Linked DNA regions of Homo sapiens. The protein of the gene in region 3 purifies or fractionates together with the protein of the main gene of each other region. This does not show direct contact. Each region holds a gene or a part of one and is shown on either strand. Other genes may lie near its edges.

Evidence for each region.
Region 1: the proteins of MTF2 (region 3) and EZH2 purify together in Homo sapiens (affinity purification with mass spectrometry; 10 studies listed by BioGRID and IntAct, with this or other methods). This does not show direct contact.
Region 2: the proteins of MTF2 (region 3) and RBBP7 purify together in Homo sapiens (affinity purification with mass spectrometry; 6 studies listed by BioGRID and IntAct, with this or other methods). This does not show direct contact.

The regions. Positions count from the first base shown.
Region 1 is NC_000007.14:148,874,292-148,881,918, reverse strand, and holds part of EZH2 (histone-lysine N-methyltransferase EZH2), read left to right. Parts: intron 1-7,627. UniProt on the Homo sapiens protein: Polycomb group (PcG) protein. Catalytic subunit of the PRC2/EED-EZH2 complex, which methylates 'Lys-9' (H3K9me) and 'Lys-27' (H3K27me) of histone H3, leading to transcriptional repression of the affected target gene.
Region 2 is NC_000023.11:16,846,363-16,853,989, reverse strand, and holds part of RBBP7 (histone-binding protein RBBP7), read left to right. Parts: intron 1-147; coding exon 148-308; intron 309-1,114; coding exon 1,115-1,241; intron 1,242-1,361; coding exon 1,362-1,439; coding exon of another isoform or gene 1,440-1,574; intron 1,575-1,867; coding exon 1,868-1,944; intron 1,945-4,688; coding exon 4,689-4,746; intron 4,747-7,627. UniProt on the Homo sapiens protein: Core histone-binding subunit that may target chromatin remodeling factors, histone acetyltransferases and histone deacetylases to their histone substrates in a manner that is regulated by nucleosomal DNA.
Region 3 is NC_000001.11:93,074,511-93,082,825, reverse strand, and holds the start of MTF2 (metal-response element-binding transcription factor 2), read right to left. Parts: upstream 3,544-8,315; 5' UTR 3,300-3,543; coding exon 3,295-3,299; intron 1-3,294. UniProt on the Homo sapiens protein: Polycomb group (PcG) protein that specifically binds histone H3 trimethylated at 'Lys-36' (H3K36me3) and recruits the PRC2 complex, thus enhancing PRC2 H3K27me3 methylation activity.

The sequences.
Region 1 (7,627 bases), on a different chromosome or scaffold from region 3:
TCTGTCGTCCAGGCTGGAGTGCAGTGGCTGGATCTGGGCTCACTACAATCTCTGCCTCCCGGGTTTAAGGAATTCCCCTGCCTCAGCCTCCCGAGTAGCTGGAACTACAGGCACGCACCACGACACCCGGCTAATTTTTGTATTTTTAGCAGAGACAGGGTTTCACCATGTTGGCCAGGCTGGTCTCGAACTCCTGACCTGAAGTGATGTACCCGCCTCCGCCTCCCAAAATGCTGATCCAGACGTGAGCCACCACGCCCAGCCTAGGATAAAAATTTCTAACTTTGCCCTTGAGTGTTCTCTGTATTTGATAATTACTATTCTTTGTACTTGCCATGAGATATTTTGAAAAACATCTCTTTGGGGAATTGGTTTAAAAATTCATATTAAATTATTTTCTGGTACAATTGAGAATGTATTTAGTCAGTTTAAGTAGCAGTGACTTAAAACACACTTGTTGATCTAGTGTAGTTAGAAAAAGTTCTGATACTTTGATACCTAGCTTTGCCTTGCACAAATACATTTAAGTGAATATCTTTATGTTGGCCATTTAAAAATTTTAGGCAAATTTCTCCAAGTCATACTGGAATTTTCCCAGGATACCTTCCTTCTTTTGAGGTAGTGTGCTCAAGGATTCTGAATTTATTTCAGTATTACCCTTTACATGAGCAGTGATTGAGAAAGTTGATCTGCTTTTTAAAAACCAACAAGGACAAATCCTCCAATATAATGTATTCTGTGGTTAATTAGCAATGATTTATGGATTAGCCTTGAAGTCTTTATATCAGTATAGATGACAAATTTTCTGTAAATCATGATAGATTCTATATGAGTAGGTGAAATCTTCGGGGGAGAGCATAAGTGAACAGCAGCAATTCATTAAATTCAGAGAAAGGTTCATGGTCAGATGATACATACTTTACCTTCTGGAGGTCTTCCCTGAATTCCCACTCTTGTGTTCCCACAGGGTTTTATCATATTTTATTGTAGCATGACTCAATTGTATTGTAATCACTTGTTTATGCATCCCTCTCTTCCCTACAGTCAAAGTGCCTCCTGGTAGAGGCTCTGTCTTATTTTTTTCTTTGTATACCTAGTACCTACGTTGGTATTTGCTAGAGAATAGGGGTTTTAAATATAGTTGAATGAATTAAGGAAATATGAAAAATGTAGGGAAATAATTTGACAAAGGAACTTGCAAAGTGAACAGGATATGTTAGTATTCATGTGAGGAACTTTGAAATGTGTTTTTCTCCCTCTTTAATAGGGAATGATTACAAAGAAAAATAGTTGTCAAGGTGAACAAGTTCCAAGTTTTTCCTAGTTATAATCTGTAGTACTAAACATTAGATATCCTTTAGATGCAACTATTACACTCGGACAACTGGAGAGAACTTGATGAATCATCTGGATATTTAGTAATAGTATTTGCTTAATTTGATTTAATGTTGATATTGATGATCTCTTTGCAAAAATATAAGGAAGGGAAAGGGCGAGAGAGGGTAGTAGATCTTTTAACTGAAAAGCTGTTTTGTTATAATTCATGAGTTCTTTATTGGAGTAAATTGAGGTAGGTTTTGGAGCTAAAACTGAAGGATGTAGCGACAGTGTAATTGGATCATTTATTGGGATGCTTTTCATCATTCTTTTAAAATGATTTAAATACAGATTAGCAAATTTAGTGATACCTCAAAAGTTACAGCTGGTAAATTTCTAAGATAGTTGCACCATTCCATATCTTGCCACTGTTCCACTACTTGGTATAAAAATATGACAAATTTGTGTTTAGATTATGTGGTTAGCAGTTTCTTAATAATTGGTCTTGTTTTCCATTAACAATAGCAAGACAGAACAAGATCATAGCTCACTGCATCCTTAAACTCCTGGGCTCAAGGGATCCTCCTGTCTCAGCCTCCTGAGTAACTGGTATTACCAGTGCACACCATTGTGGTGACTTATTTAATTTTTTAATTTTTTGTAGAGATGGGATCCTGCTTTGTTGCCCACGTTGATCTCAAACTCCTGGCTCCAGGCAATCCTCCTGCCTTGGCCTCTTAAAGTACAGGGATGACAGGCTGAGCCATTGTGTTTGACCCAGATACTTTTTTTTTTTGAGACGGAGTCTCGAAAGTGATTCTTGTGCCTCAGCCTCCTGAGTAGCTGGGACTACAAGCGTGCGCCACCACGCTCGGCTAATTTATTTATTTATTATTTATTATTTATTTTTTTGAGATGCAGTGTCACTCTGTCACCTAGACTGGAGTGCAGTGGCACCATCTTGGCTCACTGCAACCTCCACCTCCTGGGTTCAAATGATTCTCCTGCCTCACCTCTCAAGTAGTTGGGATTACAGGCATGCACCACCAGGCCTGGCTAATTTTTGTATTTTTAGTAGTGATGGGATTTCACCATGTTGGCCAGGCTGGTCTCGAACTCCCGACCTCAGGTGATCCACCTGCCCTGGCCTCCCAAAGTACTAGGATTACAGGCGTCAGTCACTGTGCCCAGCCTCCGATAATTTTTATATTTTAGTAGAAACTGGGTTTCACTGTGTTGGCCAGGCTGGTCTGGAACTCCTGACCTCAAGTGATTGACCTGCCTCGTCCTCCCAAAGTGGTGGGATTATAGGTGTGAGCCACCACACCCTGCTGTGTTGTTTTTGTTTTTGTTTTTTGTTTTTGTTTTTGTTTTTTGATATGGAGTCTCACACTTGTTGCCCAGGCTGGAGTGCAGTGGCGTGATCTCGGCTCACTGCAACCTCTGCCTCCTGGGTTCAAGCGATTCTCCTACCTCAGCCTCCCGAGTAGCTGGGATTACGGGAACGCACCACCACACCTGGCTAATTTTTGTATTTTTAGTTGAGATGGGGTTTCACCACGTTGGCCAAGCTAGTCTCGAACTGCTGACCTCAGATGATCCGCCTGCCTCGGCCTCCCAAAGTGCTGGGATTACAGGCGTGAGCTACTGCGCACGCCTGGCCTGGATACTTTTTAAACATTTTTAAATTAAAAATTTTTTTTTGGAGACAGGGTCTTGTTGTCACCCAGGCTGGAGTGCAGATGCGTGATCTCAGTTCACTGCAACCTCTGCCTCCTGGGCTCAAGCGATCCTTCCATCTCAGCCTCCCAAGTAGCTGGGACTACAAGTGCATGCCACCACGCCTGGCTAATTTTTGTATTTTTTGTAGAGACAGGGTTTTGCCATGTTGCCCAGGCTGGTCTTGAACTCCTGAACTCAAGAGATCCACCTACCTCAGCCTCCCAAAGTGCTGGGATTATAGGTGTGACCCACTGCACCCAGCTTTTGTTTTTAATATTTGTAAGAACCACCTTGTGTCTGCCAACAGGCGAATTAACAAAATGTGGTATATAAACCAATGAAAACATAAAAGGAGTGAAATAAAGACGTAAAAGGAGTGAAATTTCAAAATAAAAGTAAAAAGATTTCAAAATAATTCAGACATAAAAGGAGTGAAATTCTGATACATGGATGGAGCTGGAGAATATTATGCTTAGTGAAATAAGCCAGATACAACCTTTTGTACAAAAATACAAAATTGTATGATCTCATTTATATGAGGTAGTTAGAAGAGGCAACTCTATGGAGACAGAAAGTAGAATAGAGGTTACCAGGGCTGTGAGGGGAGAGGTGAATGGGGAGTTTAATGAATACAGAGTTTCTGTTTGGAATGGTGAAAAAATTCTGGAGATGGATAATAGTGATGGTTGAACAATATTTTGAATATATTTAATGCCACAGAATTGTACACTTAAAAATGGTTAAAATGGTAAATTTTACACGATATGTATCTGTATCTATATATATCTCTCTCTATATCTATATATCTTACCAGAATACAAAATTTAATAACACACTCCGAAAACCTTTACAGATGAGGAAACTGAAGAAAACTGTCTACAGGGGAGGAGTTAAGAATTTGCCCAGGATTATTCAGCTGGGAATTTGCATTCGGGATCCAAACTTAGTTCTGTTTCACTACATATTATCTACTCCATATTATCTGTTCTGTGTTATCTGCTGGCTTTCTGGGTGATTAAAGATATGTCAGCTCCGAGAAGAATGAGTTTATTTGAATCATTCAGAAAGTTACATTTAAAAGTAGGTAATTGTAGTTTGATGGAAGGTACAGTGTGAAACCCTAGACAGACTAAAGGTTAACTTTGAGGATTTCTTTCTCAGCCAGAGTGGTAATAGTATGCATTTGAGAGGGGAGGAGAGTAGAGTTCTAAGGATGTGGTCTTTGGAGACAGTTTCTTGGGTTCCAGTCCCTGAGCTACCAATTTGTGTCTGGGGTGTTATCCTCTTGATGTCTTAGCATCCCTATCTGTAAATTGGTGAGGATAATGATAACATCTGATAAGGTGGTTGTGAGGATTAAAGGAATTGATACATGTGAAATCCTTAGAACTGTACCTGGCAAAAAGTGTTTGATAAATGATTTTCAGTTATTGTGCCAATATTATTTTAGAGTTGATGTACTTTCTCATTAATGGAACCAAACACTTCTCAAGTTAAAATTACGTGCTTAGGACTGGTAAGTTACAAAAATGGTACCACACGTTTTATCTATTTCAATTTAGAAATGTCTGTTGATTAAATGTGTTCGCTTTAAACTACTGAAACAATGTAGACATTTATAAAATGAAAGCGTATTGATCCCTGTTATCTCATTCGCTACCTTTAACGGTTTGGTGTATATTCTTCCCCAAATTTTCAAATATATTCATATATGAATATGTATTTTTACATACATTTTATAAAAATGGGACCAAGTTATTTGGTTCTAACATGGCTTTTTTTTAAGGTCAATACAAAGATCTGTTTTATTAAAAAATAATTGATATTCCTTTAGGGCTCACTATATGCTTGGTACTCTTCTAAGTCATTATTTTATATAGATACTATAATATCGAGAGATGGAGAGATTAAGTAACAACTAGTTAGTGGTAGAGGAAGGATTTTAATTTGGGTACGTTAGCTTCAAAGTCCTGATCTCCCAGCCAGGGATCATTTTTGGTAAGGCCTGTGAGCTGGAAACGTTAACACTTTTAAAAGAGTTGTAAAACAATACCACCCCACTTCCCTGAAGAACATATAAGGGAGACTAGATACCGCCTGCCAAGCCTAAAATACTTACCATGTGGCCCTTTACAGAGAAAGTTTGCTGCCCCTTGCTCTAAGCCATCCAGCTGTACCTCTTTGGTGTAAGGGGGGTGCATAGTATTCCAGTTTATGAATGTGCATTACGCAGCAAACCAATCTGTTGTGATTGACATTGTTTTCTCTCCTGAAAAGAAGTGAACATCCTTATGTATCTTTGAACATTTGTGTGACAATTTTCTATAGAGTTGGCTCTTTCAAGATTATGAACATTTCTAGTTTTAATAGGTGTTGTCAAGTTATATTAATTTTTAGTTAAAACAACAACTGTATTGAAGTATAATTTACATACAATAAAAAGCACACATTTGAAGGGTATGATTTGAGGAGTTTTGACAAATGTATGCACCTGCACCGCTGCCTGGATCAAGATCTATAATGGTTGCCATCATCTCAGAGTCCTTTCATCCTCTTTTACAGTCATTCTCTCAACTTTTTTTTTTTTCCCTCCAAGATGGAGTCTTGCTCTGTCACCCAGGCTGGAGTGCAATGGCATGATCTCGGCTCACTGCAACCTCCGCCTCCTGGGTTCAAGCAATTCTCCTGCCTCAGTCTCCCGAGTAGCTGGGATTACAGGCGTCTGCCACCACACCCAGCTAATTTTTGTAGTTTTAGGCGAGATCTCAGCTCACTGCAACCTTGACCTCCTGGGCTCAATCGAACCTCTCACCTCAGCCTCCCAAGTAGCTAGGACCACAGGCATGTACCACCATGCCCAGCTAACATTTATTATTAATATTTTTTTGTAGAGATGGGGTTTTCCTGTGTCGCCCAGGATGGTTTCCAACTCCTGGGCTCAAATGATTCTGCCTTGGCCTCCCAAAGTGTTGGGATTACAGGCATGAGCCGCGGCACCTGACTTGTAGTAAACTCTCTGAATTAATATTCCATTGTAGGCATGTGCTACAGTTTTTAAATTCATTTACCCATGGATGGACACATAGGACTGTTGTCAGCTGTTGATAAAGCTGCTATCACCATTTGTATGTCTTTCCTGGACATGTTTTAGTGGTAAATATTGATTTTACTTTGTAAGAAACCGTTAAACTCTTTTCCAAAATAGTTGTACCATTTTAAATTGAAAGTTACAGTTGTAACTGTGCAGGAGTTACAGTTTCTTCACATTTTCATTGACACTTCGTGTTGCCAGTCTTTTAAATTTTGGCCATCAAATGAGTATTAAGTATCTCATTGTGGGTTTGTGTTTCTCAGATGATCAATGATGTTGGAACATCTTTTCATATGCTTATTGGCCATTTGTGTACTTTTTTTGGTTCAAGCCTTTTGTCCCTTTAAAAAATTGGATTGTTTGTCTGGTTGAGTGGCAAGAGGTCTTTATATGTTCTGGGTACATAGTCACATTATCTGTCAGATTGTGTTGCAAATATTTTATTGTTCATTTTTGTTTGATTTTGTGTATTTTTAATACTATAAAGATCAAGTTAAAACTTTAATATGGGAAGCATAATCAGATAAATTATGTGAAACAAATTGTCCTTAATTCACGAGTCATTTAATTAGTGTAACAAAATGTTATGCATTTGCAGAAACTTGTAAACTAAAAGGATATTATTCATATGCTGTTAGGTGTATGGATGATAATTTTTTTTAATTAAACTAGTTTTGAAAATTATTGTATTTAGTAATTCTCTTCATTTTGCATAATTCAAACCTTTTCATTTATTAGTGAGTTAAGCCTTAAATTTTTTCTTCAAAGGATAAATGAGAATATTAAAAGTAAAAAGTGACCTTGATCTTAGAATGGGGTATGTAGAAATGATGATTGCCAAACTTAGTTTCCCTACTTTGACAATCAAGTAAAATTTTTTTTTTTTTTTTTTGAGACGGAGTCTTGCTCTGTCCCCCAGGCTGGAGTGCGGTGGCGCGATCTCGGCTCACTGCAAGCTCTGCCTCCTGGGTTCACGCTGTTCTCCTGCCTAAGCCTCCCGTAAATTTTTTTATTATAGAAATGGATGGCTTTTCAGATTATATATACTTGGTTTCTATACACTATTTTATTTTTGTAAAGTAGCAGTTCTTTTGCTCAACACCTGAATTGCCCCCACAATAAATTTTTAGTTTTTCTTCAATATTCAAGTAATACATAACTTTTCCTTTTCCTGTTTAACAAAGAAAAAAATATATAAAGCAAGCTGTTGGACCTCCATTGGGTGTTGTTTACCACCACTGTAGGTGATCGTGGCATTGTCCACCTCAGTCTTCTCATGGCTGTGGATTCAAGTTAAGAAATTCCTGAAGGTAGCATTCCAGGTAGTCTGTAGAACAGCCCAAACTCTCTGAATTAGTATTATCTCTGATAGGTGTTTTTTTTTTCTTTGCTTTTTTATTTGAGACGGGGTTTTGCTCTGTCACCCAGCCTGGATTTCAGTGGCACAATCTTGGCTTACTGCAACCTCCACCTCCTGGGCTGAAACAATCCTCCCAC
Region 2 (7,627 bases), on a different chromosome or scaffold from region 3:
AATCGCTTGAGCCCTGGAGGCGGAGGCTGCAGTGAGCCGAGATCGCACCAGCCTGGGTGACAGACTGAGACACTGTCTCGAGGGAAAAAAAAAAAAATCAGTCTCTTATAGCCCTTGTTCTTTTTTTTTTCTCTCCTTCTCTCTTAGACTGTTTGTCTGTGGGATATAAACGCAGGACCAAAAGAAGGCAAAATTGTGGATGCTAAAGCCATCTTTACTGGCCACTCAGCTGTTGTAGAGGATGTGGCCTGGCACCTGCTGCACGAGTCATTGTTTGGATCTGTTGCTGATGATCAGAAACTTATGATGTAAGGTGGAAAATTCAGTGGGATCTTGTTAAATGGGTGACCTGAATGACCATCAGTGATTGCTGCAGGCTGTAGTTTGATTTTTTTTTTTTAAGTTATGGCTTTAAAAAACAGCTTTAGGTAGCTTACTCCTGTAATCTCAATACCTTGGGAAGCTGAGGCAGGAGGATTGCTTGAGACCAGGAGTGTGAGACTCTACACAAAATTTAAAAACAAAAAATTAGTTGGGTATGGTGGTGTGCACCTGTAGTCCTAGCTACTCAGGAGGCTGAAGTGGGAGGATCACTTATTATTTAGAAAAAAAGAAAACTAGGTATGGACATGTGAAGGAACATACTTGGTGTGGTGGTAAATATCAAAATTGAGATCCAGAGTGATGCCAGTTGGAGGTCGAGGAGGAAAATGATTTCATCAAGGTGTGGCCACAGGGCTTCATTCACTTATAATCTTATAAAGAAATACCTGAGGCAAATGTGACAAAATACTGGGCATTTGTCAAAACTAGTTTTAGGTATCAGATTGTGACATTATTCTCTACATAGTCTGTATTTTGTGTACACTTGAAATAGTTGGTAATTAAAATAGGAATCTAATTTAAAAAACAGGACTAACAGCCCTAGCTTGTTCTCTGTAGGTTTCGAATGTATCATTTAGTGGTCGAGGTCTGAATCACCAGCTGTGTGGTTGGTTTCTTCATGAAGGGGAGCACATAGTGGAGCTAGTTGTGGAGTGCAGTGACAGTGATGTGAGGCCGAATGTGAGTGTGTCATCCCTGGGTGCCGTGTGCCTTTACCTTTGTGTTTTAGATGGGACACCAGGTCCAATACCACCTCCAAGCCGAGTCACTTGGTGGATGCGCACACTGCCGAAGTCAACTGCCTCTCATTCAATCCCTACAGCGAATTTATTCTAGCCACCGGCTCTGCGGATAAGGTTTCGAAGTTTTTGCATTATTTGGTGTTTATAAAACCCAGTTCTCTTGTGCCTTAATCAGATATTTGAAAATTCTTAGGTAAAGCATAGAAATCATTTTCACTTGTTATTTTTCTTTAGACCGTAGCTTTATGGGATCTGCGTAACTTAAAATTAAAACTCCATACCTTCGAATCTCATAAAGATGAAATTTTCCAGGTATGTGACAGTTTTCTGGTGTCTGTATGTCAGGAAATGAAATCCAGGGATTCATCAGTTAAGCTATACCAGACTCGTGGGTCCACTATTGAAAAAAATGTCTTGTACGTGGTGTTACATGGAGATGCTCATAGGGTAAGGTACACCTTGTTGAAGAATTAAAAAGCTTCTGGGATGGTTATGGGGTCGAATAAATTTATTGAGATCCCAGGCTGAGTTCCTCAGTGCTGGGGAGTGCAGCCTTCCTGAGGACAGGATGGAGCTGAGCCCTTGCAGAGCACTTGAAAGTCGGGGACAAGAGAGTGAGGCCATCAGGCCAAGGATAAGATAATAGAGTGCAAGATGGGAAAATATCAGATTAGAACAACAGCCACAAACCTAGCAGCGGATGATTCTTTAAATACATTTTCAAAATTATCTATTACTAGGTCCACTGGTCTCCACATAATGAAACTATTCTGGCTTCAAGTGGTACTGACCGCCGCCTGAATGTGTGGGATTTAAGGTAACTTACAGTCCTGTGACAAGATACTGCATAAATGTGCCTATCTGGCAAGTTACATAGTCATTCATAAACTAGAAAAGCAATTTGGTAATCCCCCCTTCAAGAAACCTAATATTAAAGAAACTTCTAAGCATCTTCCTAAAGAGCCTTTGTTCTGTAAAATAGAAGTGAAGCAGCAAATGGACCATAAAATAAATTTCTCTAGTGTGAGTTTTGTCTCTTAATATTCAGGCATGAAGGTGTATGTGTCTGTTTTTGTTTTTGCATTCAAATGACTGTATTTAAAACACACTTGATATAGAGAAATCAAGATGTTAGCTGTTTTATGTCTCATTGGATCTCAGTACGTGTAGGCAGGACTGTTTTTTCTGGGTTTTTGTACCATTTACTTTGCTTTCAGTGATTCATTCTGCAGATGTGCACTCCTGCTGTGGGTTGTGTAACTGCTGGGGAGACCTTTGTGAAGGGGACAAGGACAGCCCAAGCTGTCAGAGAGCTTATGTTCTCTGGGGCCTCATTGTATAAAGAGTTTCTGCCAATTTTTAAAGTTCCTTTAGTTCAGACTTGCTGTTCTAAGAATTTTAGACTCCTTTACTTGTTCATCTGAGCCTTTAGAACTTAATAAAGTTGCTCAGTTACATACTCCTCCGTAAGATGTCATCTTAAGTTTAAATCATAAAATTACCAAAAAATAACTTATTTCCTGCTTGTATTAAATATATTGCTTTGAAGTGGACTGAATTTAGTACAGGTTGAATATCCCTTATCCAAAATACTTGGAATAAGAAGTGTTTGGGGTTTTGGAATTTTTAGGATTTTGGAATATTTGCATTATACTTTATTGGTTGAGCATCTCAAATCTGAACTGAAAGTCCAAATTCTTCTTCTTTTTCTTTTCTTTTCTTTTCTTTTTTTTTTTTTGGAGACTGAATCTTGCTCTGTCACGCAGGCTGGAGTGCAGTGGCGCAATCTTGGCTCACTGTAACCTCTGCCTCCCAGGTTCAAGCAGTTCTCATGCCTCAGCTTCCCGAGGAGGTGGGTCTACAGGTCTACAAGCACTGCCACAGCCACCATGCCCGGTTTTGTATTTTTTACTAAAAAAATAAATAAATAAAGGCAGAGCTTTGCCATATTGGCCAGGCTGGTCTCAGACTCCTGACCCCACGTGATTCTCCCGCCTTGGCCTCCCAAAGTGCTGGGATTACAGGCATGAGCCATTGCACTCGGTGTGAAAGTCCAAATTCTGAGTGTCACGTGGTGCTTAAAGTTTTGGATTTTGGAACATTTTGGATTTGGGATGCTCAACCTATATATTAAAACCAAGGCTGCCTTAATTATAGAGGCAGTAATCCTCAGTATATAGAAGAGACGCTGGAGAATAAAATGCTTGTATGTAAAACTTAAAATAGCTAATGTTCAGGGTTCTGATGGAGCAAACTCTTGCCGTGATAAATACTTGAAGATGTAGAAAACCTTTAAAGCAGACAGTTGGGGGCATTGTATTTGATTTAAAAACAATTTTAGTAGTAAAATAAAACCTAAATCAAAACTATAAAGAGGTTGTATGAAGCGTACAGCAAGGTTTGGAAGTCTGATGCCCTGGCAACTGAATTGCCCCTGAAGGTGCCAATAATTTGTGAGCATTGTGTGTAATTTCTTCTTAGAATTATTTCTTAGCTTGTTTAATATTAAAATTACATTAGATAGGGGGCCAGGCATGGCGGCTCATGTCTATAATCCCAGTACTTTGTGAGGCTGAAGCAGGAGGATCGCTTGAACCCAGGAGTTCGAGACCAACCTGGGCAACATAGACCCTGTCTCTACAAAAAATTGTAAAATTACATTAGATAAAATTTGGGATTAAAATGGTGAGTTTTAGCAACTATACTGACAGGTGGAAGATAAGTATTGTCTAGCAATCCCACAGGTTTGAGATTGTTTGGTTAGTTTTGTGGGAAGGAAAAAAATGTCTCACTTGGAGGGCTGGGTTTTGTTTTTTAGTAGTTGTTACTACTAAAGTCTTTGGGCTAGGTATAAGGACAGGGCTGATATTGATACATAAAGAGTGATTTCACTGTTGAGCACTGGCAAATTCTACAAATTGAAGTTTTTAAGAGAAAAACCATAAAAACATTTCCTTGGCTTACACATTTCTCAAAGTTTTATTGCCATATCTTTAGACAGATCTATAGTACTGATTTGTAATTATATTTTACTCCTGGGATGCAACAGGCTTTGAGTGAAGTATAGGGATTGCACATCAGTTTATGTGTAGATTTTTTTAACTATACATTTCACCTTTTAATTCTAAGGCAATAAACAGTTAATGAAGGGATTTTGAGTTAATGTTTATTATTGACAATAATTCCTCATTCTGCAACTTCAATTATGAACAACTCTAACTTATTTCCAGAAAGTAAACATCCCGTCCTTACACCAAATATAAACAGTAGCCAGATGTGGTGAGGCTGAGGCGAGAGGATCGCTTTTGAGCCCAGGAGTTCAAGGCTGTAGTGCACAGTGATCGTGCCTGTGAATGAATAGCTACTGACTGCAGCCTGGGAAACATAGCGAGGCCATGTCTCTAAGGAAAAAAAAAACCTAATTGATTGTAGTATAGAAATAAGTTGTTTTTGTGAGTGTGTTTATGTTTTAAGATTACTTTCTGGGCTGATACTGGTTTAGCAGATGTTCGTGCTACAAGAATTTCACTGATGAAAGCGTTATATTCTTTATTCTTACAGTAAAATTGGGGAAGAACAATCAGCAGAAGATGCAGAAGATGGGCCTCCAGAACTCCTGGTACGCATTGGCTTATAGAAGATGAAATGTCATATGCAGATTGGATTGTCATTGATCTCTTTATTTCGAGAATGGGTCAGAACTTCGAATTCTAGCTCTTGCAGATGGTTTCAAAATGGAGGCCCTGAAGGTTATTGCAACTGGGCTTTGACATTTATCAAAAATAGTAAATGGAGCCCAGTAGGTTTTTATGAATGTTTCACTGAGAATGGTTTGAGGTCCTGGAAAATAGTATATAGTAATTTCTCACTGATTTCAACTCTGGTATTTGTGATGGTTTGGGGATGGGGAGTGAGTATAATTGCTATTCAGTTGGCAGTACTTAACATTTCCTAACAGTATAGAAAAAATTTTAAATGCTTTTTAAGTTTCCTGCCCAGAAAAGGAGTGCTTTCTCAATCTTGATGTTAGCAGAGCCCACTATCTCCCTCCCATGCCTGATTGAAGCATCACGCATCTCCTTGGCCCTTTGAAAGCTTATGTGGTGGTATCTGCCCATCCTCATTCTTCCCGTCTGAGTCCTTCAGTGCTCACTTCGTCATTTTTCTATGAAGCATTGCCGGATTTAGCAATGGTTCCCTGTCCTTGCTCTGAATCCAACATTTGTCTCCTCCCATTATTTGGCCGATAGTCACTCATCACTCTGTCATTTACGATTTTAGTTCTAATGCCAGTACTCATTTTTGGCACACTTGTACTTTGTCCATGAGTTTTATTTATTCATTTTTTCTGTGAACCTATGGAGTATATTGAATGTCCACAAGTTTTCAAAGGTAAAGAAGGTCCTTGAGAGCAAGCCCTGCACACAGAAGATGTTCACTAAGCCCACCTTGTAAGAATGCTCCAGACCCTTTTATTTTGATGACGGCTTTACTGAGATATAATTTACATACCACACAGTTCACTTCTTTAAAGTGTACAGTTCAGTGGGGAGGGAGTGTTCTTGGGTTTTGGGGGTTTTTTTTCTTTTTTTGTTCTTGAAGTCAGTGGTTTTTAGTATATTCATAGACTTGTAAAACTATCACCACAAATCAATTCTAGAACATTATTCATCCCCTCCAAAAGAAACTATAGCTATCACCTCCCAATTCTCTTCTTCCTCCAGCCCTTGGCAACTACTGTGCTACTTTCTGGCACTATAAGATTGGGCTATTCTAGATATTTCATATAAATATGACTTTTGTCTTTTGGGACTGATTCTTTCACATAGTACAATGTTTTCAAGGTCTCCAGCTATTTTTTTTAGGGAGAAAGGAAAGCGTATTACTTTGTATATTATGCCTCTGCAACAATTCCAAGGTCCTTGAGAAAATACACTAGGATTTTGCTTTTTACAAGAGAGCTTGAAATCAAGGGACATTTGAGAGTAGTAAACTGGGCCTGGGCATGGTGGCTCCTGCCTGGAATCCCAGCACTTTGGGAGGCCAAGGCAGGTGGATCACGTGAGCCCACAAGTTCAAGACCAGGCTGGGAAACATGGCAAAACCCTGTCCTGTCTCTACCAAAAAAAAAAAAAAATACATAAATTAGCCAGGTGTGGTGGCGCGTGCCTGTAGTCCCAGCTACTTGGGAGACTGAGGTAGGAGAATCACCTGAGCCCGGGAAGTTGAGGCTGCAGTGAGCCATGATCACACCACTGCACTCCAGCCTGGGCAATGGGAGTGAGACCCTGTCCCAAAAACAAAGTAGTAAACTATTCCACCAGTATGCTTTGATAACTCCTGTATGTTTTCTAAGCCCCAGTGATCTTAAAATATATTCACCTGTGTACCCCTTAAGAGTACTCTCTCTGTCGCCCAGGCTGGAGTGCAGTGGTGCAATCTCAGCTCACTGCAACCTCTGCCTCCCGGGTTCAAGTGATTCTCCTGCCTCAGCCTCCCGAGTAGCTGGGACTACAGGTGCGCAACACCATGTCCAGCTAATTTTTGTATTTTTAGTAGAGACAGGGTTTCACCATGTTGGCCAGGATGGTCTTGATCTCTTGACCTCGTGATCCGCCCGCCTCAGCCTCCCAAAGTGGTGGGATTACAGGCGTGAGCCACCACACCCGGCCAGTATATTCACTTGTGTACCCCTTAAGAGTACTTTAAAAAGCTATTTACCTCTTTTTTTTTTAAGTCAAGGTCTGGTTCTGTCACCCAGGCTGGAGTGCAGTGGCGCAGTCTTAGTTCACTGCAACCTCCACCTCCCAGGTTCAAGCTGTCTTCCCATCTCAGCCTCCTGAGTAGCTGGGACTATGGGCACACCCCACCACGCCCGGCTAATTTTCGTATTTTTTGTAGAGACGGGGTTTTGTCATGTTGCCCAGGCTGGTCTTGAACTCCTGAGCTCGAGCCATCCGCCTGCTTTGGCCTCCCAAAGTGCTGGGATTACAGGCGTGAGTTTTACCCAGCCCCACCTCATATTTTTAACCCGATAAGATTATTCGGTAAAATAGATACATTGCATAATACCTAGTTGGCAGGCAGAGACCTCATTGTCAAACTAGAGTCAAATCAGACTTTGTCAGAAAGTGTGATGTCCCAGTTCCAAACAGTGTATTTAGTACTGTCCTTGTGAAGAAGTGTTTCGTTTAAATCTTAATTCTAAGATAAAAAAATAAGGCATAGTGCATTCCGACGAGGTTGTCTCTTGCGGGGAACAACTGCTCTCTTCAGAATTGTTTAGCAAAGCTCTCACCTTAGGCATAGCTTATGAGGGACTATCTGGAGCTATGCTTTTGGAGCCAGGGATTTTCTTTCACCCTGGTGCTGTCTGTGTACGTTGGAAAGATGGGCAAGAAGTATGCCTCTCTCAGTAAAGTGGAGAGGGGAAGAACCAGAAGACTCCTCAGGCCCCTTGTATAATAGAAGAGTATGTTACATGGCATATAACGGATTGA
Region 3 (8,315 bases):
TTTGGGATGATGAAAATATTCTGAAATTAGGTATGGTGATGGCTGCACAACTTTGTGAGTATACTAAAAAAAATCACTGAACTGTACACCTTCAAAGAATGCATGTGAATTATGTACATATAACTATAGTATATAAATTATATCTCAATAAAACTTATTAACAACTGTACAGTTAAGATTTGTGCATTTCAATATATGTAAACTTCACCTAAAAATAAACCTTTAAAAAATAATAAAAACAATGGGCTGGGCACAGTGGCTCAATCCCAACACTTTAGGAGGCCACAGCAGGAGGACTGCTTGAGGCCAAAAGTTCATGACCAGCCTGGGCAACACAGTAAGATCCCGTCTCCACAAAAAAAATTAAAAATTTAAAAATTAGCCAGGTGTGGTGGTGTGCACCTGTAGTCCTAACTACTCGGCAGGCTAAGGCAGGAGGATCACTTCCGCCCAAGAGTCTGAGGCAGCAGCAAGTTATGATAGCACCACTTCACTCCAGCCTGGGTGACAGAGCAAGACCTTGTCTCTTTTTACAGAAAAAAAAAAAAAAAAGAATGGTTACATAAAAGCTCACTATTCTATTCTGCTCACTTTGTATTATGTTTGAAATATTCCTTAAGTTTTTTCTACCAAAGTGTAAAAACAAAGTAATTTTTTTAAACAACAAAACGTTCCTAATATCCATTTTTTGTTGTTTTTTGACACAGAAGCAGAATCTTATATTTTAAAAAGACTAGAGAGGTCACTATCTTTCATTATTCTATTGCAATGTTATATGAAAACAGAAATATGACAGAAGACATGGTATGTGGTAAAAATGAATACTTCATCTTAAATGTACAAAAAGAATCTGAACTTCCTCAGTTCTCAGGCATTTCCTCATCCTTGGATTCCTGTGGTTTCCATGGTTAATGAATGTAACAATTCCTCAATACATGGATGCAATAACCCCTACTACTGTGCTGTCCAATACAGTAGCACTGCTACATATGGCCATTTAAATTTTAGTTTTAATGAATTAAATTATAAATTCACTTCTTAGTCTCACTAGTTACATTTCTAGAGTTCAATACCCACATGCAGCTAGTGGCTACTGTACTGGATACAGCAGATATAGAACACTGCCATCACTGGAGAAATTTCTACTAGATAGCACTACTCTAACATATAAGAAATATCCACAGGGAAACTTTTACATTCCAATTTAGGATGGTTATACTGGATTTCACAGCAATAAACAAATTTTCCTGAAGAACAGGGAAAACAAAGTACAAAAATATTAACCATCAAAGATCGTTCATGGAAGTGTCGACTAACTAAAACAGCAGTTAAGTTTTACTTTCAGAACCATCAAGCTACAGATGTTGGTCATGGCAACTCCTCAGAGGCAAATTTCTCTGTTAAAATATAGATTAACAATATACTGTCAGTTTCCTCAAGTCAGATGTAAAGATTATGCTGAAAAATGATTAAAGCAAATTATCCTTCAAAGATCCCACAAAAAGGAATATTTATAATCCATGAAATCAAAGAGTTAATGACCCACAGTAAAATACACAGAATGTCTTTCCTAACAGAGCTTTGAGGCAACGGGGATGATTTAAAGAACTATTAAATATAATTGTGTCATCTAGAAAAAAGGCTTAACAAGATGATTTCTGTACAACTAGTTCTAAAACTGTGTATGCATTTCATCCTGATAGTTACACATTTCCGTTAATACCCACTAACATTATAAATGTAGTATCAGGAAGCAGGTGTGTTCTTAATTCAAATATTTAGAACATTTTTAGCACTTTAAAAAACTGCAGGTGAACTAATTTTAAAATGTGAATTCAAATACATTTTTATATTTAGGAATCTGAAAAAACAAGTCATTTTGTATTCCCTCTCAAGTTATAACTAAACTATAGGGCACTTAAAGCCATCAGTCAAAACAACTCCCTTTAAAGCATTTTCAAATCTTAAAAAGGTTATTGTGAATTTAATTACATTTTATCCACATTAACTACTTCTACATACAACTATCTTTGAAATTTACTGACAAAAAAAAAAAAAAAAGGAATTCCCAAGAGAGAATGAAACCATGGAAATTGAAACCAGCTTGTAGGCTAGGTATACAGGAGGGTCACATGGAATCCATCTGAAGGAGAAAGTAACTACTATTACTACCGGAGGTTCTGAAGTCAAATTAAATCAGGTACTATTTACATATTTCTAGCTCTGTACTGACCTCACATGGTGCCTTCCTATGTATTACACACAGGCCTAGCTAGGTTTTCACATTTAAGTTAGTGTTACATGGTTTCTATCTTTAACCAAAGTTAAATGTTTTAAAGAATAGAGTAACATTCCATAAGCCTTTTCCCATTGTTCACAAACCCTTGCTGTTAGTCAGATTACCCCGATAAATCCATCTGTTCCCTCTAATTGCTTCCAAAGAAAAATTCTAGCAACCAAGGACACCAGATTGTAAAACACAGAGTTAGAGTTCTGGCACTACCGAAATATGTTAAGAAATCTTGGCAAATTGGTTAAAATTCCTTGAGCCGTAATTACCTCAGTTGTAAAAATGAATACAATACAAATCTACATCCTAGACGTAGATTATATGAGTTAGGTTTAATTAAACACAAGAAAAGCCTCATATTTTTGGTGAGCTCCAAATATAAGCTACCTAGCTTTCCCCCATCTCACTTTCCCTCCCACCGCTTCCCTTTAAGCTTTCAGGTTGTGCTTCCAACCTCCACTTCAGTGTGTTCCCCTTATCCTTACCAGCACTTACACTCGACCCCCTTTACTCCAATTCCATACAATTCCACCCTCCGATTCCAAGCTGCTACTTCCCTTTGCGCACTGCTAAGGTCCCAGGCAGCCCTCCACTCTGCTCCCCACATTTCCCTCAGCCCCCATTTCCCAACGGCTCCTCCTCTCGGCTCCCCACCCCCTCGTCACCAGGTTCATCCTGCCCCTCCAACCGTCTCCCGCCCCCAGGTTCCTTCCTGCCCTCCAAACACAGCTTCCCCGTCTCAACGTTTCATCTTGTTCCTCCAACAGACTCCCCCAACGACCTCCTCGCTCCTTTAGTCCCTATTTTCTCCCAACACTCAACTGACTACTCCTCTTCATCCATTCTTTTCAATATACACATAAATGCAAAGGCACCCACATACAGGAGCCCCCACCCCCACCTTGGTCCTCCATCTTTCCCTTTTATACTTGCTTCCTTTCTTCCTCCTTCCCCCAACCCCCATCTCCTCCGGAAGAGTCGGTTCCCAGGCCAAGGTCTCTCACCTCATTCGGTCACTTCAGTGGTGCCAACCGCTTCATACAGGAAAAAACAACCAATCCGTCCCCGTGGGCGCTTCCCCTGCGAGTCCGAGCACTTACTGGGCACCCGCCCCACCGGGTACCCGGCACATATGCACGCACAAACCGAGGTCCTTGGAGACAAGGGTTGGGGGTAGAATGAGCGTTCTTACACCGGCCTCAAACACAGCCCACTTCAATACAGCCCCTCGCCATTTTGGTTTCCCGCGGACTGCCGGTGCATTCTGGGAGCGCGGAGCGACTCCGGTGCCGAATGGCAGCTCTCCAAAGCCGCGGGGGGGCAGGGACTGCGCGGCGAGCGCGGAGGAACACCGCGCCCTGCGTCCCCGACTGGGGCTGAACAAAGAAGGACTCTTTAACGTTGCAGTGAGGCTCAGTCCTTCCGCCGCCGGGGCTAACACAATAGTGAAAGCTGCGCTCCTGATCGTCGGCAGGCTGGCACTGTTATACAGGAAAAGGGTCGTGTGCGACCTTCGGTGTGCGTGGTCGTAACGGTGCTCTGTGCATCTTGCTGGGCCGATTTCTTTTCCCTGGAGAAAACCTTAACTGAAGCACGTTTCCTCTACTTTCATCCTAAGGCCTGCTGTTAGAATTTCCTTCAGAGGGGAGAAGACCCAGGATGTCGAGATTAAATTTTATTCAGCGATTCACTGTCCAGTCCCAAACTCCTTATCAGGAGCTGCTTTTATGAAAGACTTTCAGACGATTTTTTTCCTAACGATGAAAGGTTGTTTTCTGTTTACCCGCTTTGCAGTCCTTCCTAGTTGTAATGAAATCTGAGAATAGTCCCCTGCAAAATGGTTTAAGAAAACAGAATTGTTTATTAGTGCAGACCCTTAGCCTGCCCAGATTCTGCTGCCTACAGGGGTCCCAACTGACAAGCTGTGAGATTGTATGCTTGTCTCTTTAACTTACACCTAGATACAACCCAGCTCCTCTTAGTAGCCACGTGTGGAATCTTTATTTATAATTTCGTCAAAATATTTTTAAAGCCATTTTATATTTTTGTCCCATATTATGCCACAGGGATAGTGAACACCATATTTTTTCTGTCTCTGAAAAAGTACCTTTTGTGGTCTAAGCTCATTTGGCTCATACTTCAAAAGGGGTTCCCTCAGCCTGTGATCTCAGAATTTGGCAAATAAGCATATTCGTTTTATCCAATACCATTCAATACTTTAAATATTGTGGTCATACCCTTCCACTCCTCTGCTTCTCCTGAATAATAGTCCTAATCTTTTAAGTCTGTCTTCTTACTGTACCCTCACTGTATCTACTTACCTACTACCTTTCAGGTTTCACTTTATTTCAATTCTCATCATCGTCTCTCATAAATTCGTCTTAAGTGACCTTCATACGTTGGCTGAGGAAAATTTTGACTTAAAAAAAGCAGATGCAGCCGGGCGCGGTGGCTCACACCTGTAATTCCAGCACTTTGGGAGGCCGAGACAGGCAGATCACCTGAGGTCGGGAATTCGAGACCAACCTGATCAACTTGGAGAAACCCCGTCTCTACTAAAAATACAAAAATTAGCCAGGTGTGGTGGCACATGCCTGTAATCCCAGCTACTCGGGAGGCTGAGACAGGAGAATCGCTTGAACCCAGGAGGCAGAGGTTGTGGTGAGCCAAGATCGTGCCATTGCACTCCAGCCTAGGCAACAAGAGCAAAAACTCCATCTCAAAAAAAAAAAAAAAAAAGTAGATGCATTCCCATTCAGGAACGTGGCATTAAGGTAAATAAATAAATAAAATATTAAAAAGTAGATGCAGTACAAAAATTAATAAAGATATTGCACAAACAGATATATTTGCTGTGCAGCTAAGCCTAATCAGAGAACATCTGTTTTGGAGAACGTTTGGTCTAAGTTTTCCTCAACATTTCTGTAAAGTGGTCACCAAGCCTCAACTTCAAAATCTTCAGTGATTCAATACTTCAGACGCATTCATTTCCACCTCAGAAACTCTAATAATTTAGGCTCTTTGGCTACACAAAAGTATTCTAATCCCTTATACATTAGAGAAGTAAATTATGCCTCTATCAAAAAAAAGTGTTATTTTTCTGTGCAAACGTGTGAGTACAAAGGTGTAAGCAAACCAAGTGTTCAGAGATTTAAGGACACTCAGGGAGTCACAGTCAAGTATAAAGAATACCTGTCAGCCAGCCACCAGCAACTCACTCCTGTAATCCCAGTACTTTGAAAGGCCAAGGTAGAAGGATCACTTGAGCTGGGGAGTTCCAGACCAGTATGCAGTCTGAGCCACATAGTGAGACCCTGTCTCTACAAAAAATTTAAAAATTAGCTGGGCCCCTGCCTGTAGTCCCAGCTATTCAGGAGGCTGAGGTGGTAGGCTTACTTGAGCCACAGTGAGACTGCCTCAAAAAAAAAAAAAAAAAAAAAAAAAACCTGCTGTAGTTGTGGTTCCTCGGAAATATAGAGTGAACTCTGATCAGAGTAAACTGTACCCTTTATTGTTGTATGTATTTCTGTGATCATCCTTAGGGTGGTTCATAAGTATTCTGGTTCCCCTCTCTTCCAGACACATAGTAAAATTGCACTCTGGCCGGGCGCGGTGGCCACGCCTGTAATCCCAGCACTTTGGGAGGCTGAGGGGGGCAGATCACTTTAGGCCAGGAATTCCAGACTAGCGTGGCCAACATGGCAAAACTCTGTCTCTACTAAAAATACAAAAATTAGCCGGGCGTGGTGGTGCATGCCTGTAATCCCAGCTATTTGGGAGGCTGAGGCAGAGAATCACTTGAACCCAGGAGGCCGAGATTGCAGTGAGCCAAGATTGCACCGCTGCACTCCAGCCTAGGCGACAGAGGGAGACTCTGTCTCGAAGAAAAAAGAAAAAAAAATTTGCACTTTCTTGCACCCCTGAAGTTAATTGCTTTGACCAATAAAATGGGTGACATGTATCACTTCTCAGGAGAATCTTTAAGAAGCAGAGACACATCTCCCTCCCCCATGCTATGGTAATCATGGAAGCTTGGGTTGAGATAGAATGTCTGTCGCTTTCAGTTCCTAAATGTCTACAATAAGCAGTGACTAGAATTGTGCAATCATCACCACAATCCACGTTTAAAACATTTCCATCACCCCCAAAAAATTCATTATGCGCATTTGCAGTCAACCCTCCTTCCAAGCCCTAGGCAATCTGCTATCTGCTTTCTGACAATTTCATATAAATGGTTTCATACAATAAGTAGTCTTTTGCATCTGGGTTCTTTCACTCAGAATATTTTTTAGGTTCATCTACGTTGTACCAGTCAGTAGTTATTTCTTTTTATTGCCAAATAGACTCCATTTGAATGAATGTACTACATTTTGTTTATCCATTCGCCAGTTGAAGGACATTTATGTTGTTTTCAATCTGGGGCTATTATAAATAAGACTGCTATGAACATTTGTGTACAAATCTTTGTATGGACATTCGTTTTTTATTTTTCTTGAGTAGATCCCTAGAAGTGGAATTACAGAGTTGTATGATAAGTTTATGTTTAACATTTTAAGATACTGCCAAACTGTTTTCCAAAGTGTAAGCAATATGTAAGCCTTCCAGTTTCCCAATATCCTCACTGATACTTGTCTATCTTTCTGATTTCACTCATAACAGTAGGGATTGCTAGGCATGGTGGCTCACACCTGTAATCCTAGCACTTTGGGAGGCCAAGGCTGGAGGATTGCTTGAGCCCAGAAGTTTGAGACCAGCCAGGGCAATACAGTGAAACCTTGTCTCTAAAAAAATAATAATTTTTTTTTTTTTTAGATGGAGTCTCTCTCTGTCACCCAGGCTGGAGTGCAGTGGCACAATCTTGGCTTACTGCAACCTCTGCCTCCTGAGTTCAAGCGATTCTCCTGCCTCAGCCTCCTGAATAGCTGGGATTACAGGCACGTGCCACCACGCCCGGCTAATTTTTGTATTTTTAGTAGAGACTGGGTTTCACCATGTTGGTCAGGCTGGTCTCAAATTCCTGACCTTGTGATCTGCCTGCCTCGGCCTCCCAAAGTGCTGGGATTACAGGCATGAGCCACTGCACCTGGCCAAAAAAAAAAAAAAAATTATTATAATAATTTAAAACAGTGGGAGTGAAGTGGTTCATTGTGGTTTCCCTAATGGCTAGTGCTATTGAGCATCTTTGGTTTGTTAGCCATTCTTATATCTTCTTTAGTGAAGTGCCTACTCAAATATTTTATGTATTTTTTAACTGGACAATCTTCTTATATCAACTTGTAAGAGTTCTTTATATATTCTAGATTTAGGTTCTTTAACAGAAGCATGATTTGCAAATATTGTCTTCCTGTCTATGACTTTATGACTTGTCTTTTCATTTTTCATAATGATGTCTTTTCTTTTTCCCCCAGAAACAAGGTCTCACTCTGTTGCCCAGCCTGGAGTGTAGTGGCACTGATCATAGCCCACCATAACCTCAAACTCCTAGGCTCAAGCAATCCTCCCATATTAGCTTCTCAAGTAGCTGAGACTACAGGTGCACACCACCACTCCCAGCTAATTTTGTTTTAATTCTTTTAGAGATGGGATCTCTATATGTAGCCCAGGCTGGCCTGGAACTCTTGGCCTCAAGCCATCCTCCCACCTCAGCCTCTCAAGTAACTGGGATTACAGGTGCAAGCCACCCTTGCCAGGGCTTAATGTATTTTGAAGGGAAAAAAATTTATTTTAAGTTCAATGAAATCCTATTTATCTTTTTTTAAATACCATATGCTTTTGGTGTTATAACTAAGAATTATTTTACCAAAGTCTATTTTCTATTATGTTTTCTTCAGAAGTTTATAGGTTTAGCTCTTATATGTAAGTCTATGATCCATTTCGAGTTATTTTTTGTGCACAGTGTGAGAGGTATAGGTCTGTATTAATCTTCTTGTGGCTGGGTGTGGTGGCTTCTGCCTGTAATCCCAACACTTTGAGAGGCTGAGGTGGGAGGATTGCTTGAGCCCAGGAGTTTGAGACCACCCTGGGC